Linked DNA regions of Homo sapiens. The protein of the gene in region 1 purifies or fractionates together with the protein of each later gene. This does not show direct contact. Each region holds a gene or a part of one and is shown on either strand. Other genes may lie near its edges.

The links.
Region 2: the proteins of HSPA12A (region 1) and AKAP12 purify together in Homo sapiens (affinity purification with mass spectrometry; 3 studies listed by BioGRID and IntAct, with this or other methods). This does not show direct contact.
Region 3: the proteins of HSPA12A (region 1) and NPTN purify together in Homo sapiens (co-immunoprecipitation; 2 studies listed by BioGRID and IntAct, with this or other methods). This does not show direct contact.

Annotation. Positions count from the first base shown.
Region 1 is NC_000010.11:116,676,558-116,683,596, reverse strand, and holds part of HSPA12A (heat shock 70 kDa protein 12A), read left to right. Parts: intron 1-1,719; coding exon 1,720-1,806; intron 1,807-2,340; coding exon 2,341-2,445; intron 2,446-3,835; coding exon 3,836-4,094; intron 4,095-7,039. UniProt on the Homo sapiens protein: Adapter protein for SORL1, but not SORT1. Delays SORL1 internalization and affects SORL1 subcellular localization.
Region 2 is NC_000006.12:151,354,967-151,359,098, reverse strand, and holds the end of AKAP12 (A-kinase anchor protein 12), read right to left. Parts: intron 3,373-4,132; 3' UTR 540-3,372; downstream 1-539. UniProt on the Homo sapiens protein: Anchoring protein that mediates the subcellular compartmentation of protein kinase A (PKA) and protein kinase C (PKC).
Region 3 is NC_000015.10:73,630,351-73,637,328, forward strand, and holds the start of NPTN (neuroplastin isoform b precursor), read right to left. Parts: upstream 3,040-6,978; 5' UTR 2,866-3,039; coding exon 2,775-2,865; intron 1-2,774. UniProt on the Homo sapiens protein: Probable homophilic and heterophilic cell adhesion molecule involved in long term potentiation at hippocampal excitatory synapses through activation of p38MAPK. May also regulate neurite outgrowth by activating the FGFR1 signaling pathway.

The sequences.
Region 1 (7,039 bases):
ATGGTTACCCTGGTTCATCACCCACCAAGTGTCTGGGGGCGGGGAGCTTCTCTCTAAGAATCTGAGGGTAGCCTGAGAGCGGTTATTGGCCTCACATTGTACTAGGCTCTTAATCTTTCTTGTGTATTAACAGATTCTTAATCTAATTCCATTGCCTGTTATTAATTCTCCATTAAGACTGTTGATTTATTGCTGAGTCACTCATTGGGTCTGCTTCATGTGCGATGAGTTTAAAATGCAGATGAAACCGGCTGACTTTTCCTGACCTAGGTGACGCTCGCTTAGCTGTGGGAAGGAGCACCGCCTTAGGGAGACTGAGGATGGCGATTTTAAAAAGCTTTTCCTCTTTAATAATTACCTGAATGCAAGTAGGTCATAGCCTTGGTCACAGAACTTGGTTCCCTGGTATCCAGGGCTCTGTGGGTGTGTCGAGGGCTATAGGGTTTGCAGACACGCCCTGTCAGGGTCAAGGCACCAATATGAGCGCTAAGTGAGAGCACTATGGGGGTGGCGCCGGGCACTGTTGTTAAATCTCAAAGGCACGAGGGCCTAAGGTCTAAGGGTTAATTTCAGGCTGCAAGAAAAGAATTGTGGGGCCGGGCGTGGTGGCTTACACCTGTAATCCCAGCACTTTGGGAGGCCGAGGCAGGCGGATCACGAGGTCAGGAAATCCAGACCACGGTGAAACCCCGTCTCTACTAAAAATACAAAAAAAAAAAAAAAAAAAAATTAGCCGGGCGAGGTGGCGGGTGCCTGTAGTCCCAGCTACTTGGGAGGCTGAGGCAGGAGAATGGCGTGAACCCGGGAGGCGGAGCTTGCAGTGAGCCGAGATCGCACCACTGCACTCCAGCCTGGGAGACAGAGCGAGACTCCGTCTCAAAGAAAAAAAAATTGTGGGAACTGCAAGCCCCTTAACCTTTCCTGACCTGATTTCCTTCTCCGAACATAGGGACAATGATTTGTGCCCTCTCATAGCCACATAGGCGTCTCCGCCACTCAGCACCTCAAGCCACAGCAGGAGCGGAGGTTGTCCCTGTGTTCATGGAAAAGGCAGCACAGGGGTTTGCCAGGCCCAGACGCGCCACCTTGTGGCCGCAATGCATATTGGCTTCAGCTGGGTCAGGAAATGGCCCCCCCCCCCAGTCTATTTACCCAGGGTGCATGTTAGGAAAACACACCCCAAATTCCTTGTATCAGACAAAATTCCTTGATTTGGAATTGTTTAACTGAGCGCACTGCAGGCTGTTTGGCAGATAGCTTCCTCCCTGGGGCAGCAAAGCCGGGAAACTAGGCGATTTCATTAACCCATTCTCCAAAAAATGTGACCAGGGTAGGTCTCATTTGAGAGTCTCGCTCTGTCACCCAAGTTGGAGTGCAGTGGCGCACATTTGACCACATTCTCTTCTTTCAGTTTTTTTCACGTGGAAAATGGGGATAATAATTCCACCTAATTCCAAGGGTTGTTGTGAGAATCTCATCAGGGTGGGCTTTTCAGCTGGGCACAGGCTAAGCCGAGGAATAGAGGAAGGCCGGTGGAAATCACTTTCTCTGGGAAGAGCTGGCTTTGTGATTCCCGACATCGTATTGACTTATTTTGGTCAAATGTCACTAATGTTCCATCCCTAAATCTCCTCATGCTATTGCCTTCACTGACTGCAAATGATCTCTGCTTTTTCATGCTTTCTTACCCGTCATCATTTTCTTTCTGTCGGCCACTAGCTAAGGAACACATACGGCGTAATCGGCAGAGTCGGACCTTTTTGGTGGAGAATGTCATAGGAGAAATCTGGTCCGAGCTGGAGGAAGGTAGCGTCCTTCAATGTCCTTTGCTCTTGCTGGATTTTCCTGTGCTGCTCGTGAAAAGCCATTCCCATTTGTCCCTTTTGCACTTTTGGAAAATGTTCAAACTCAGTGGGTTCTAAAGACCACTCATGCAGGGAGAGCTCTTTTGGGAGCTGTAATTTTGCATGTTGTAAAACCAGGTAGGGATTGGAATTGATCAGTTCCAGAGTAAGTCTTTGGTGAAACGCAGATGATTTTAGGGCACTCACTATTCACGTGGCAGGAAACTGCCCACTAAGTACGTGCCAGGTATGCAGCAATGTGTGAATCTTAGATTCACTCACCTGGGTTCTCCATCGTCCATGTCTAACCATCCTCCTGGGCAGATTGCATTCTCTTTGGTCATGGTTAACTCCTAGAGCTGCTAATTAGCAAAACCATTGTGCTAATGAGAAGTTTTGAGGGCACTTAGCTGGGTCTACCTAGTTACCACCCACAAGCTTGTTTCAGATGGGGTTGGCAAACAGTCTGTGTAAAAGATGGCTGTTTTTGTGCCAGGTGATAAGTATGTGGTTGTGGACAGTGGCGGTGGCACCGTAGACCTGACAGTCCATCAGATCCGGTTACCGGAGGGACACCTTAAGGAACTGTATAAAGCAACAGGTGAGGCCCTGCAGGGCTAATTTTCTTATTCCTGAGCCAATTCCAGGCAGTTCTGTTTTCACTTGTTTCAGATAACTCTCAGTTTTATTCTCTTGAATGCCACTAACATGTGGGATCGTAGGCGGTGGAGGATACTAATGTCTGCTTGAAATTGGAAAGCAAAATGCAATTAAACATTCTTTAAAACACAAACCACCACAACTTGGGTTTTGGCCTAAAGCGAGCCTGTTTCAGATCCTGGCCAAGGGCGCTGGTTTCTGAAAATTCCGAAAGGATGAGATTGCAACTTGATGTTGCCCATGACCGTGCTAAGGTGAACTTTCTAGGGAGGCCTCACCTTGTCTTGGATCAAGATTGCCAAACCATTGGCCAAGTGCGGTGGCTCACGCCTGTAATCCCAGCACTTTGGGAGGCCAAGCAGGCAGATCACTTGAGGTCAGGAGTTGGAGACCAGCATGGCCAACATGATGAAACCCTGTCTCTACTAAAAATACAAAAATTAGCTGGGCGTGGTGGTGCACACCTGTAGCCCCAGCTACTCAGGTGGCTGAGGCAGGAGAATTGCTTGAACCCAGGAGGCAGAGGTTGCAGTGAGCAGACATTGCGCCACTGCACTCCAACTTGGGTGACAGAGCGAGACTCTCAAAAAAAGATTGCTAAACCAAAGAACATGCTGTTTCCCTTTTGGGAGGTTGGAGGGGAAAGGATAATAAGTAATTAGAGGATCACACAGGGACTAGACCAGGCCTGCTGATTTTCCAGCCCCCGCCCTTGGATGTCTTGGATTGGAATACCATAATGGTCCTAGTTAGATAAAATTATTGATTTTTTAAAAAATGTAATTGATTTAAAATAGATTGTTGGCTGGGAGTGGTGGCTCATGCCTGTAATCCCAGAACTTTGAGAGGCCAAGGCAGGTGGATCACCTGAGGTCAGGAGTTTGAGACCAGCCTGGCCAACATGGCAAAATCCCATCTCTACTAAAAATACAAAAATTAGCCGGGCATGGTGGTGCGTGCCTGTATCTCAGCTACTCGGGAGGCTGAAGCAGGAGAATCACTTCAACCCAGGAGGCGGAGATTGCAGTGAGCCAAGATTGTGCCACTGCACTCCAGCCTGGGCAACAAGGGTGAAAACTTTGTCTCAAAAAAAAGAAAACACAAAAATAAAATAATAAAGTAAAGATTGTTGACAAGAGATTTCTGTAGGGAAAAGCTTCTCCACATGGAATGAGAAGCAGCGCAGGGTTCTGAAGTGTAAGTAAACACTTATAGCTGCCGTCCCATTGCTAAGTGGCTCAGAGATGAACAGGTGGGCCTGTTTCTCAGAGTCTGGATTGGGTTTCTAATGGTTTTTAACACCATGGCCTCCCTTTTTGTTCTCAATTCAGGCGGACCCTATGGATCTTTAGGAGTAGATTATGAGTTCGAAAAACTTCTGTATAAAATATTTGGAGAGGATTTTATTGAACAATTCAAAATCAAACGCCCTGCAGCCTGGGTTGACTTAATGATTGCGTTTGAGTCTCGCAAAAGGGCGGCTGCCCCAGACAGAACTAACCCGCTGAACATCACCCTGCCCTTCTCCTTCATTGACTACTACAAGAAGTTCCGCGGGCACAGTGTGGAGCACGCCTTGCGGAAAAGCAAGTGAGTTGGGCTCATCACCTCGGGCTCTGGACATTCTAGCGGGTGGATCGTGCTGATGGGAGAGAGGAGCGAAGTGTGGACTTCGGGTTCCAATCCTACACACTTGCTGTATGACCTTGGGCAAGGGACTCAACTTCTCTTCCCTCAGTTTTTTTCACATGGAAAATGGGGATAATAATTCTATGTAACTCCAAGGGTTGTTGTGAGAATGCAATGAATTCATACATGTTGGGTGCTTAGAACAATGCCTGGGACCTGGCAAGTATTATCTATGTGTTTGCTAAAAACAGAGGAACTATGAAAGCAGCGAAGTTTAGTTTTGGCCCCTGCCATATCCCCAGTGTCTAGAAGAGAACCTGGTATGCAGTAGGTGCTCAATAAATATTTGTGGAATTAATCCAATGGGAATGTAGGTTTCTTGCCACTCTGAGTCCCTTGACTGATTTTGTGTCTCAGCTTGTTGCAAAATGAATATATTTAGAAGACGGTTTAAAGCCGAATTTAAAAAAAAAGATAAAAATAATAGATTTCTAATATTCTTAAACATTTTAAATTTATATATATAATATCCATCATGAAATGATGACTACAGACAGATTTACCTATCTATCATATTTCATAATTACCTTTTTCTAATAATCCTTTTGTAAGGGAACATGTCAAACATTTATCCTGTAAAATACCCCATTGTCCAGCTTCAACAACTGTCAGGTCCTGGCTAGTCTAAATCCAATTATTTTAAAGCAAATCTTAGAAATTAGCATCTCATCTATTTCAGTATGTACCTCTAAAGGAGACAAGTTTTAAATCACAACCACAATACCACGATAACACTTAACAATTAATAATTCCTCAATATTATCAAGTATCTAATTAACATTAACATTTTTCCATTTGTCTTTTTTTTTTTTTTTTTCACTTTGTACCAACATCCAAATGAGGGCTCTACATAGCAGCTATCTGATACGCCCCTCGAGTCCCACTAATGTACAGGTTCCCCTCCTGGTTTTTCCTTCACAATTTATTAGATGGCAAAACTAGTAGTTTGTCCTTAGATTGGAGTTTCCTATCATCTGGGCTTTGCTCATCTCACGTCCGTGGTGTTACACAGCAGGTTCTATCCCATAGCCTTTTTTTTTTTTTTTTTTTTTTTTGCAAGTTGGCAGATGGACTTAGAGGTTTAATCAGATTCAAGTTTGAATCTTTGGCATATCTGCCTTACGGGTGGTGGTTCCTCCTACTGCATCCCATCAGGGGACACGAAATGTCTGCCTGTCTCTCCTTTTGTGATATTAGCAGCCATTGATGATTATTGCCTGGTCCACTAATGCATTAGGGGTGGCTCCATGGCCACCATCTTGGTCCATCACTCCTTCCTCATTTATTTAGCTAGAATACTCCTAGAGAGAGAAACTTGGCTCCTCAGTGGTTTGGTTGCCCTGAACTACAGCTCACTTAGGGAAGACAGGATAAATAGGTTGGGTTTCAACCTCCATTTATGAGTTAAAAAAAAAAAAAGAATCAATTTCCTAGTATCCGCCAAAGTAGCTAATGAATTTTTCCTTTTGTGAGGGCATGAGGGGGAGTATCATTAGGAATTTGAGGATTTAAGCATATTTGATGTATTTTAAACAATGGCAATTCTATCCTTATTGACACCCACACTGTCCCATCTCGGCCAGTAGGAGCCTTCTCACGTTGGCTCTGAATCCCTTTGACATGACATTTGTGGTGGTTGACAGTGTCTTTGCCTCCTTGTATGTGAAGACACTCTTGGCTCATCTTGTACATTCCCTACCCCAGGCCTGGAATTGGCCATTTCCCTAAGAAGCCCTGGTTCCTTTTAGTGGAAGTGAAAGCAGATTTCATGTCAGGTCTTCTTGCCCTTGGAGCAGGGCCAGTCTGGACCCTCTTACTGGGCTGATGTTCTCTGCCCCGTTAGTCCCCCACAGAGGGCACCTGTCCTCTGTTTGGAATCCCAAGACCTACCTGCACAGTTCTGGGGCCTGTCAACCCTCCCACTAAGAAACAGGCTGCAGCCAGCCATGGGGTCATTCCATACCACACCACATTGTCCTTTGGCCTACGCCATGGAAAGGATTCCTTACCAACATGTTCTAGATTCCCGTCCAGCATCTAGAACATGTTCCTGGGAAGCTGCTGGTGTGCACTTTGCATCAGGGACAGAGGCGCCATTTGCTTGGCCTCTGAGAACAGGAGGGGCACGCCCTGTGGGTTTGGGGAATACACAGTCCCTGGCATTTGCTTAGTGCCAGAAAGTTTCCAGAGCGCTTTCACAGACATGGTATTTAACTTCGTCTTTACAACAACCCCCGTGAAGGAGGTAAGGCAAGCGCAGTTATCCCTGACTTCCAGACGTGGAGACTGGGCTTGAAGAAAATGGAGTCTAATCTGCCCAAAGTCCCAGAGCTCCGCAGTGGTGGTGGCCAGGCTAGAGCCCCACAATCCTGGATTCCCGTCCAGGACTCTCTGCTCCACACTGCTGCTTCTGGACAGAGACCGTGAGGGCCACCTAGTAGAATTAGGCTTACTCTGTCACCTGACAGGTGCCTGGAAGGCTGAGGACATGCACCTGAGCGCACACATGTGTAGCCGTAAGTAGCAGTACAATAAACTCGCCAGGGAGCTTTTAACGTGCTTGAATCCAAATATTGTTGGGTTCAAAGTGTGGTCCTGCGAAAGAGACAGTGAGCCCTTTATCTCCTTGTCTTTGCACTAGACTTTGGCCTCCACTATCCCAGGGGAAGGTCGGTCACAGCCAAACTTAAGATACAGAGAAGAGATTATGTCTTAGCTTTTGAGCTTCTAAGGGTCCAGGTCCTGGCAGTTTAGGGTTTCCAAAGGTGCTTTTGGCTTTCAACCCCCTTTCTGCCTGCTAAGAAGTGACAGATGTTCTGCCAGGGCAGGTGTCTATGCAGATAAGC
Region 2 (4,132 bases), on another chromosome or scaffold:
TCTGATGGCATCACTGCCTTCCGGCCTGTGTGACAGAGCCAGACCCCATCTCTACAAAATATGAAATCAAAATACAAATAAATGTTTAAAAGAAATAGTCATGTAGATTTGAATTTATGTGACACTGATTTTGTGTTCCGGTTCCGAGCTCTGCTACTATCTGGGAATCCTTGGACTGCGTCCATTTCCTTTCTTACAGGGTTGGAGAAAGAGGTTCTAACTCTGGTTCTGGTTATTGGTTGGCATTTCAGAGAAGGTTTGTGTGACTATCCAAAAACTGTACATAAAACTTTATATTGGGGAGTCCGAGGTCAGCTAGAAGCTTAATGAGATTCTAATTAAAGGAGCCCAGGACCCAAAAAGGTTATGATCATGAATAGAGATCTTTGTGGACTCACGCCTATCCTAGATACATTCATTCCAAACTCTCATGATGCTCTATGAACAAAGGGTGCTAAGTAGTTAAAAGCAGAGCTTAAATGTATGACGAATATCACAACAGACAAGAGAAAAGCAATGGAAACTGAATCACAGTGAAATTACAGAAAGAAAATCCATGGCATTTAATTAGATTGCATTTTATTTAGATAAATGAAAATTTGCCCCAAACAGAACTAGGAATCAAATATTGTCTTCGACTAGAGGTAATTGCTAAGCTGGAAGCTTATATTGAAAACTAAAATTTCCAGCCCTTGACTATCTGTAGTTCCAAACATCAAAGGAAAATATTGGAACAATTTATCTATGTACAGAGAGAGGCAACTCATGGGTACCATAAGCAAAATAACCTGAGGGGGAACATTTGATATTACAAGAAGTGGTGAGAGTTTACAAGTCTTGCATTGCTTTCTATTGTACATGGCTCTGTAGTAATGCCAAAAATAACAAAATGTAGGCACTTGCTCTGACTTCTGCAGTTTACATTAGATTATTATGTACTTCATAAATTAACAGCAGCTTTAGAATTATAAAACAGTATTATATTTCATGCTACTGTTGGTGTTCTTCTTGTTAAAATAATGTTCTCAACGGACATAGATACAGAGCTTGTACAGAAGTAACTCTGGGCACATCCAGATAGTACAAAAAGCAGTCATAAAGCAGCTACTCATGGAATCGCAACTGTGATGGCCAGCGAGCACCTGGCCACAGGTGGTAGGAAAAGACAAACGCGGGTGGAATTTAAACAAAAACGTCAATTTCCCACAAACTACACAAATCTTTAATCTGTTCAAAACAGCACAGAATGTCTTCCTGCCATAGAGAGGAAGTCAATATGAACTTGTTATAAATTGCTGTCATTTCCAAAACTCTTTAGTTGATGTTCAGAACTAGAAACCAGCACTTGGATTTCAATCTCAGTTGGCCAAAAAAAAAAAAAAAAAAAAATTATATATATATATCAGAGGTTTTTTGAATTTGGGGATTTTAATAATGATGCATGGGTAGCTATTATATATATTTGAGAATAACTCCTAAAAGATGACTTCCAACTACAAACAAGACTATATATACACTGCTATCATGAGGTGTTTTACTAATATGGCCAATTATGTATGAAGTTAGATTTGTTAGCAAAAAGAAACTACTTTCAGTTTTAAAAGCAAACTTTCTTTCCATTAAAACTAGGCTTTCCAGCTAATCAGCAGTCAAAATTTAAATTTTCAAACTGGAGTACCAAGTTTGAGTAAAATCTGGAAAGCTATATGCCAGGCCAGTTCTGTGTGTCAAGAGTAGATAAGTGACACTATTCTTCGTGTGACAATTGTCTGACAAAACCCTTAATGTAGGCTGAGGCAGGAGAATCGCTGGAATCCGGGAGGTGGAGGTTGCGGTGAGCTGAGATCGTGCCATTGCACTCCAGCCTGGGCAACAAGAGCGAAACTCTGTCTCAAAAACAAACAAACAAACAAACAAAAAAACAAACCCTCAATGTATTAGCATGACTCATCATTTTGACATTTAAAAAATTTTCCAAGATTATTTCAGGAAAGGCATTTTTACTATTAATTAAGCTTTCTTAAAATTTCTTTCTAGAGACATTTGTTATTGTTTGAAACCAAAAATATTAACACAAAAAAATTGACATTTTCAGGAATTACCAGATGGTACAATTGTAGCAAGAACGTCAATCTGAAAAGCTACTGGTTTATTTCAGGAAAGCTATCTCGGCCATGGCTTCCTCTGAACACACAAACCAGTGACAAGGGGTTTCATGTAATGACTACATCAGAAAGTTCTAGCTTATCAATCATTATCTTTAGAATTCTAATGTGGTACACATATGTCCCAGGCTTCCTGGTATCTAATAAAACCAGCAAATCTAAGTGAAGCAAATATTTTATTTAAATCAGTCGTCAAATCACAACTTATCCAAATGAATGTGTTGCAACATTGTTCTTAAAAGAATGGCACAAATATGGCACAAACACAATCCAGTATCTATCAAAATACCATTTGTAAAGAACCTGACTTATTTCATGCCATGTGTGAATGCAGTCCAGCATATAAGAGTAGAATCAAAAACTTACAACAATTCTTTTCTTCATAACATATAAAACATATTCACTACTTTGCCTCAGGATTAAGCACACTTATCGGTCCAAACAACCATAACAAGTAGGAAAAAGGATGTAAAGTTAATTTGCTACCAGAATATAACTTCTTTCTAACCTCCACTGGGTTAGAAAGAAAAATTTCCCAATGACAATAGAACATTCTGTATGTTTCAAAATGCTTTTTAGTTTTAGCACACTCCGTGTAATAGGAAAGTGACCAATTTCAGAGTACCACTAAATATGGACCTCAATCATTAGTGAATTTTAAAGAATTGTACCTTGATCAGGAATGTTACATCTAGGAGGCTCTGTTTTTCGTGGGTTATATAACTGAGGCTTAAAGCTCCCCAAGCCTGCACTATGGCACATGCCCCATCATATACTGTGTGATACAAAAAGCATGTAGTATCCTGCACATTTCCTTAAACATTAAGAAAAAAATATACAATAGATACAGGAGGACTACTTAAAACATACATATAAATATGTAAAGAATGATACTCCAGTTTCAGAAGCAGAACTAGGTATTGCCAACTCCAGTTCCAGGTTAAGAATTTAGGACCTTAAATCAGAATTTATATGGTTATCAAGGGAAAATTGTAGGTTGGTCTTGGAAAGAGGAAATGTTAAATGGCTCTAGCTCCTGATGAAGCCTCAGGATTGTCAGGGGCTCTCTAGAAATGAGATCAGTTGATGTGCCTGCTCTCCAATTCTCAAAGTTCTGAAATACTGGTCTTCAGTCTCAGCAGCAGCATTCATTTTCTTCTACTACTTGTCTTCACATTCTGGTCTTCCAAACAGACAATGAGTTTAACTGTAGGAGGAGGAAGAATCAGCGTAAATAAAATCTCCTTTTTCTCTCTCATTTATTAACAACAGGATAGTTGTCAAAGTGACCTAATAATACCATAGTTTAACTCCATTAAAAAAACAAAGATGGGGCCGGGCGCGGTGCCTCATGCCTGTAATCCCAGCACTTTGTGAAGCTGAGGAGGGCAGATCATGAGGTAAAGAGATCGAGACCATCCTGGCCAACATGTTGAAACCCTGTCTCCACTAAAAATACAAAAATAAGCTGGGCATGGTGGCATGCACCTATAGTCCCTGCTATTCGGGAGGCTGAGGCAGGAGAATCGCTTGAACCCAGGAGGTGGAGGTTGCAGTAAGCTGAGATTGTGCCACTGCACTCCAGCCTGGCGACAGAGCGAGATTCTGTCTCAAAAACAAACAAACAAACAAAAAACAAAGATAGGGCTGGGTGCGGTGGCTCATGCCTGTAATCCCAGCACTTTAGGAGGCCGAGGCGGGCAGATCACTTGAGGTCAGGAGTTCAAGACCATCCTGGGGGAAACTCCGTCTCTACTAAAAATACAAAACTAAGCTGGGCATGGTGGTGTGTTATCTGTAATCCCAGCTACTCAGGAGGCTGAGGCAGGAGGATCGCTTGAACCTGGGAGACTGAGGTTGCAGTGAGCTGAGATTGCGCCACTGCACTCCAGTCGGGGTGACAGAGTGAGACTCTGTCTCAAAAACAAAACAAAACAAAAGAAAACGAAGATGGGTTGAGCACAGTG
Region 3 (6,978 bases), on another chromosome or scaffold:
TGCAGTCTAATGCTTTTGAATGTCTTATAAGGTTACTTTTTAGAACAAGTTCCTCTTTAAACTACCATTTTGATGATACATATAGAAGTCAACAAATAAGGATTTTACTTGGAATTGGTCTTACAAGTTTAAATTCTTGGATGAGAAACAAAATCCATCTGAATGAAAGCCCTGAATGTCCACAACAATGGGTCAGAAACTCACTGGAGCTTCAAGAGACCTTGAGAGTCATACAGGCCAAATTCTTCATTTTAGGAATAATGAAACAAATGCCTTTTGAAAAACATCTATATTCAATCTAAACTACTACATTCCCAATTCAGAGATACTTGTGAGTTTTTTTCTCCAGTCATTTAAATAGAAAATCTAACATTTCTAACATTTCAACATCATGCACAAGCAAGGTATCCCTTTTTGAAAGCACTGTAAGAAAACACAAACTCCATGACATGAAGTCAGATCACTGCAGGGCTATTTATTACCAGCTGAAAGCTTGAATATTATAATAAGACATGTTATATAGAAAGCTATAAAATGGCATCCATAACTATAGGAACTCAAACTCAAAAATAGCCATCTCTTCCTTGAATTAAATTTACATTCATTTGGGTCAACCAGCAGCTCAGCTTCATTTCATCGGTCATGTCATGTGACTGAATTCAAGCTCATTTCAAGGGAAAGGCCGTTCTATGCTGTATTTAGAACACATATCACTGAGCAGACAGATGAGTCTTTATAGGCCTATCCAGAAACCTTGCTTTAGTTGCTAAGAAACTACAATTTTACCGTATTATAAATCATTGGAAAAAAGCTAAGCCAGCAGAGATTAAACATGTTAAGATCAAGAATCTCTCACCTATTGTGCAAAATGAAACTATGCTATTACCATAAACTGAATAGCTAAAATTAGCATTAGGCTTCTTTAAGTCATGTTGACACAGTCGAAAAACTGATAAGACAAATAAGACTAACTCTACCCTGCCTTCCACAGTGGACTCATGCTTAGAGGAAAACAGGAAAAATACCCAATACACTTAGCATATTCAATGCTAGAGACAGAAAAAATGTTTCCTTCCTGACCCCTGCAGTGATATCCAAGGCCATGAAGCACACATAAAATTTGGTACTACGAACACATATTTAACTGATGGATATTGTCAATCCTTTATTCGTTTTAGGAATAATGAAACAAACTCTAACATTCAGCATTTTAAACCCAGTTTCTCAAAAAACTCCACTGGCTCTATCACTGATTTTTTAAAATTTAAATTGCAGCCTCTCTAATAAGAGTAATCATAAATTGTTCTGGCCTAACAATAAACAATGAAAGATTAGCAAAAATAATTTATAGTTCACTCTCCAGTACTGACTTCTCATAAATTCCTTCACAGAAAAAATATTCTTTAACCTCTTAATGGCTGTTTCCACAAGGGCAGAAACAGGTTCACAATCCTAGACTCACTTGTGAAAGATCAATTCAGCAGCTGAATGCTAACACATGTCTTCAATCAGAATCTGCTCTGTTTAGGTCCCTATGCCCATGATTCCCCACCACTTCTCCATCTTCTCAAAGGAGCTTCAATTCAAAACCCAGTAATTCTCTGCTTTCTACTGTACCACCTCCCAGGGGCCACTTTCATGTTCCTCGGAAATAACGTCTCTTCTGTCTTGAAACTTTTAAATCTCAAAAATCCACTTCCCCATCTCCCTGTCGCCAGTCACTGCCCTCAATCCCACCACTGCAATTAGTTGCAGCTATGTGTCCCTGTTTTCCCAAAGGCCCGACCAATATCATACAGCATTTGCCACATCCCAACTCCTCCCTTCCCTAATTTATCCTCCACACTGCAAACCAACATTACACCCCCGACTTCCTGCATTTTACTCCCTTCCCTTATTTTTCGTCTTCCCCCACCCCCATCTCTATACCCAGGCCTCCTTACTTCTCTAATAAATATTCCCCCACCTCAGTTCCAACCCTTTCCCTCCATCCTCTGCTCATTTTCCTCTCCTTATTTAGAAACTCCTTTTTGCTCTCCCAACCACTACCCTAGAATGCCCAGCACTCCACCCTCTTTAGCAAACCCAGCCCTCTTCCCCCAGCTCATTTGGAGACACTGCTGCTTCTCTCTCCAGGTCCCCTACTGCAGTCAACCCACTCCCTCATCTTCCCACCCACCTTCCCTCTATCCCTAGATCCAAGGTTCCCTGATTCTTTACCCCCTCCTTTGGTCTCTAGTACTCAGCTCACCATTAGTGTTCCTCAGGACTCTCTTCCCCCCAATTTCCCCCTTATTTTTAAGGATGTCACCAGTCCTACGGGGCCTCAGTAGAATCCTGGACGACCCCAGCTCCCGGGGGGCCTGACGGACACCACCATCCCCGTCGCCCGGAACACAAACGCCGGTCTTGTGCCACCCTCCCTAAGAGCTGCGCCCCCTCCTCATCCGCCCCCGCTACTCCAGCTCCCCACGTCGGCTTCCTCCGTGTCCCCTCGCCGACCCGGCACGACGAGCCCCACGACGTGGAGCCTCCGAGTGGGCAACACCTCGGGCTCACCCCGGACGCCCCCGCCGCTCGGATAGGAGCCTCCGGTCCTCACACCCGCGCCTCCTCAAACCCGCAGCCGGTACCTCCTCTCGGACCCGCAGCCCCTCAGACGCCCACTCGGCCCCCTTCCCCGAGCTCCAGCGTCTCCTCAGGCCAGAGCCGGGCCCCCTCCGGCCCCGGCGCCCCTCAACCCCCGCCCGGCCCGCCCCCGGCGCCCCGCTTACCGTTCTGAGCGGCGCCTGGCCCTGGGAGGAGGGAGCCAGAGACCAGCAACAGCGAGAGGGCCAGGGCGCTGGGCAGCGACGAACCCGACATCCTCCCTAGCAGAAGACCCAACAGCGAATGGGCCGGGGCCAGAGCCGGGGCCGGGGAAGGGAGGGGAGGGAGGGAGGGGGCGGGCGAGTGCGCGAGGGAGTGAGCGAGGGAGGCAGCCGCGGCTCGGCTCCGTCCTTCCCCGTCCTCCTCCTGCCGCCGCAGCGCCCAGGCCTCGCGAGACCTTCGCTCCGGGTCGTGGGCGGCTGAGGAGCGACCGCCGCAAGGATCGCGAGAAGAGGCGGCTCCGACGGAGACTCCCGCCCCGCGGACTCGGTGGCCCCGCCCCTGCAGAGGCTGATTGGCCTAGCGCGAGGTAGGTCACGTGCCGAGGGCGCCTCTGGCCATGTGACGGGGCGAGGCGGGACTCCGCTAGCTCTCTGGGCAGTGGGGAGCTGGGAAGTCCTTCAGTTTACTCCTCTGTGGCCCGGGAGCACCCATAAATAAGAGGAAGCTTTGGAACACAGTACATTTCCTCCACCCATCCTGCCTTTCATTTGTTAGCGCTCTTGGCTACAGAGTTTCATACACCGTGCCTCCTTTCCTCCTTCCTCTCTTTGTCCCCGTCCTGCTGTTTCTTCCTTCTGGACTTTGAACATAGACCTCTACTGGTAACTGGCTCCAACCTCCTTCTCTCATCTGCTGTTTTTTCCTTCCAGGAAAAGTGGTGCGCCCCCTGTGCCCCCGTTACCTTGTGCTTTCCTGCCTGGACATCTGCTCCCTTTGCCTGAAATGTCCTCCTTTGCCGCCTCTGCCTACTCCCCCTCCCACCCCACATCTGGGCCTTATTTTAGCTTCATAGACTCTCAGGGCCTGAAGTTCAGCTAGCCTAATTGCATGTTCATTGACACAATTCTACAAGGAAGTCGTGTATGAACTTACATGAAGACTCCTAAGAAGCGTCTTAATGCGGAAAACATTTATTGAGAACGTGCTGTGTGCCAGGCACATAGTGAAACCCACATGAAAAGGTAGTCCCCGTCCTCATGGAGTGCACTGCCTAGGCTAGCAGAGGAGTGAGGAAGGGTCAAATGGCCCCATAGGAAAGGATCTAGCAAAGCACTCTGGAGGGTGATTGGCAGTGTGGTTACTACTGTTTGCATAGAAGTTTGGGAAATGCTCTTTTTAGGGGTATTTTTTGTACTACCCTCAGGGCTTGTGGTTGGCAAAGGAATTTCTATGGCTTAGCTCATCCCTGACTCACAGCAGACGTCCTGGGAGTGTCTGTGGAAACTCTGAGGGGCCAAGTAAACAGTCCTGGTGGCCTGACTTGATTTAAAGAGAGGGTTTGGAGGACCTGGAAGAAGGAGACCCTCGCAATCTCTATCAAGCTAAAGTGGTCTGGAACTTTCAACAGGAACTGAACAGCTGGTGGTTCCAGACCAAAATTTCTAGCAAAGGCCAGGACCACTATGGCATGTTGTTGATTGAAGTGAAAACTATGTCCTTCAAAACCTCAGGTGTGTGAGTGACAAAAAGATTGGCATGTACCTTCATCTGGACAAAGGCCATTCTGCAGACAGCCCAGTAAGGAGGGCTACAGGGCTGCCTGTGGTGGGATCAAGATTTTCAGCTGATGGAAGCTTTGGTTGGATGCAACCATTCTGCCTCATTATAGCTGTAACAAATGTGGCTCTTTGATCCTTACAACAAGAGATTCTTACAAAATGATCATGGTCTTTTTGTGGATAGGGAAGCTGAAGCCAAAGGAGGACACGAACGGCTCCAGCTCTCAGAATGTTTGTATTAATCATTAATGCCAACAATCTGGTTTGCTTGTTAATAGACTCATGGTAGAAGTGCATTTTCTTGTCCCCTTGAAGTCGGGAGTGGCATTGGATGTGCTTGGGTCAGTGAAATGTGTAAAGTAACATGCATTGCTTCAAGCAGAAGCATTTCATTTCCAGTTTAGACTCTTTCCCATACTCTTTCGTCTTGGTAGTGATTACTGATCATGACGATGAAAGCATATATCAAAACGAACCTTGTGTCAGCATTAGTCCCTGAGTTAGCATAATAAGCTTAACCCCCCTGCTAACCCATACAGAACAGGTACCCTCTGTTGAATTAAACTGTGAGATTCAAGGGGTATTTGTTCCTGTGACATAACATAGACTGTTCCGGCTAATGGAAAGATGAAATTCAAGTCCACAACACCAACATTACCATCCAGGAGCTCTGTCATCTTAGGCAAATGACCTAATCTCTCTGGACCTTATTTTCTGTCAAATGGTGCTAATGATAGCACCTACCTTCCAAGATTATAGAAGGAATAAATGAGTAAATTTATGTGCAATGTTTAGAACAGTTTCTGGTGCATAGTAAACACTCATGTTGATGTTGATGCTGCTACTACAATTCTGACTCCAGCTTTGTATTCTTCTTCTTATCTCATGCTTGCAAAAAGTGATCTGGGAAGAACATTTTTAAGTATGGGTGTTACCAGTCAACTCTCAAAACCTGCAGTTATGAAAAAACCCTTTTACCCAGGGAGAAATGTCACCAAATTCCACATGATAGTAGCTGTACTTTGTCACTTTTCATCGAGAAAATACATAATAACTAAGACCTTTTAATAATTCTGTAATTTTTTTTTTGAGATGGAGTCTTGCTCTGTTGCCCAGGCTGGAGTGAAGTGGCGGGATCTCGGCTTACTGCAACCTCCGTCTCCCGGGGTCAAGAGATTCTTGTGCCTCGGCCTCCAAAGTAGCTGGGATTACAGGCATCCGCCAGCATGCCCAGCTAATTTTTGTATTTTTAGTAGAGACAAGAGTTTTGCCATGTTGGCCAGGCTGGTCTCAAACTCCTGACCTCAGGTGATCTGCCTGCCTCAGCCTCCCAAAGTGCTGGGATTACAGGCGTGAGTGAGCCACCATGCCTGGTCTAAGTCAGTAACTTCCTTTTTTTTTTTTTTTTTTTTTTTTTTTGAGACGGAGTCTCGCTCTGTCTCCCAGGCTGGAGTGCAGTGGCGCGATCTCGGCTCACTGCAAGCTCTGCCTCTCGGGTTCATGCCATTCTCCTACTTCACCCTCCCGAGTAGCTGAGACTACGGGCTCTTGCCACCACGCCCGGCTAATTTTTTATGTTTTTAGTAAAGACGGGGTTTCACTGTGTTAGCCAGGATGGTCTCGATTTCCTGACCTTGTGATCCACCTGCCTCGGCCTCCCAAAGTGCTGGGATTACAGGCGTGAGCCACCGCGCCCGGCCTAAGTCAGTAACTTCTTTAAAAGAATTTAGGAATTTGTATTTTTTTGTTGTTCAAGATTTACATACACTGTAAAAAAAAAAAATCTCTGCAAGTGTGTGTGGCTGTGCCAGAGGATGGCTGAGCTCTTTGCAATACCTTAGAAGAGCCCTAGGGGTCCTCAGAGCTCAAGCTGAGACACACTTACCTGGCCTCGAGGGACTGCTTGTAGTTAGGCTCTCCGTTGCTGATCGCGCCCCCTGGTGGAAAGGTCTGGAATACAGCATTCCCAACTGAAAGGCTTCGCGTGGTTTGGTTTGAACGTGATTCACTCAAGGATGTTAGTCAAAAGGCTTGTACTGTTCCTAGAGTTGACCTTGAACTTCCTAATGGTTTCCTCCCTCTTGTAAATATCTCTGCCCCTTTAAAGCTCTTGCTATTCAGATGACCACCCCACTCATCTTGATTGTTGTCATCCTCCGACCTCCCAGTCAATGTAATCTTTTCCCTGCCCCTTCCGATGCCTGCTGGCACCATCCTTGAACTTCATCCTTGGGTGAGTTCAACATCCATGTTCGTGACCTATTCAGTATCCTGATCTCTTAATCCTTTTACCTTCTCACGTCCAACAACTTTCTCCTCAATTAAACCAACACTTCTGAGCTCACACTGTCAACACTTTAATCACCCAAAAAGTACTTCATCTTTGAAATATGAAAATGTAATACCCCACTGTCCATTCACCAACACCTAGCCTTTCAGTTCCTTGTGCTAATACCCTATTTGCTGTAATTCTTCAACCTCACTGAGACCACTAATCTGCTAATACCACCAATTTGTCTTTATCCATTCTTCATTTCTTTCTTGGTCCAATTTAGAGCCCATGATTCATCATTATAATCATTCCCTTGCCCACCTCAACTTTCAACAT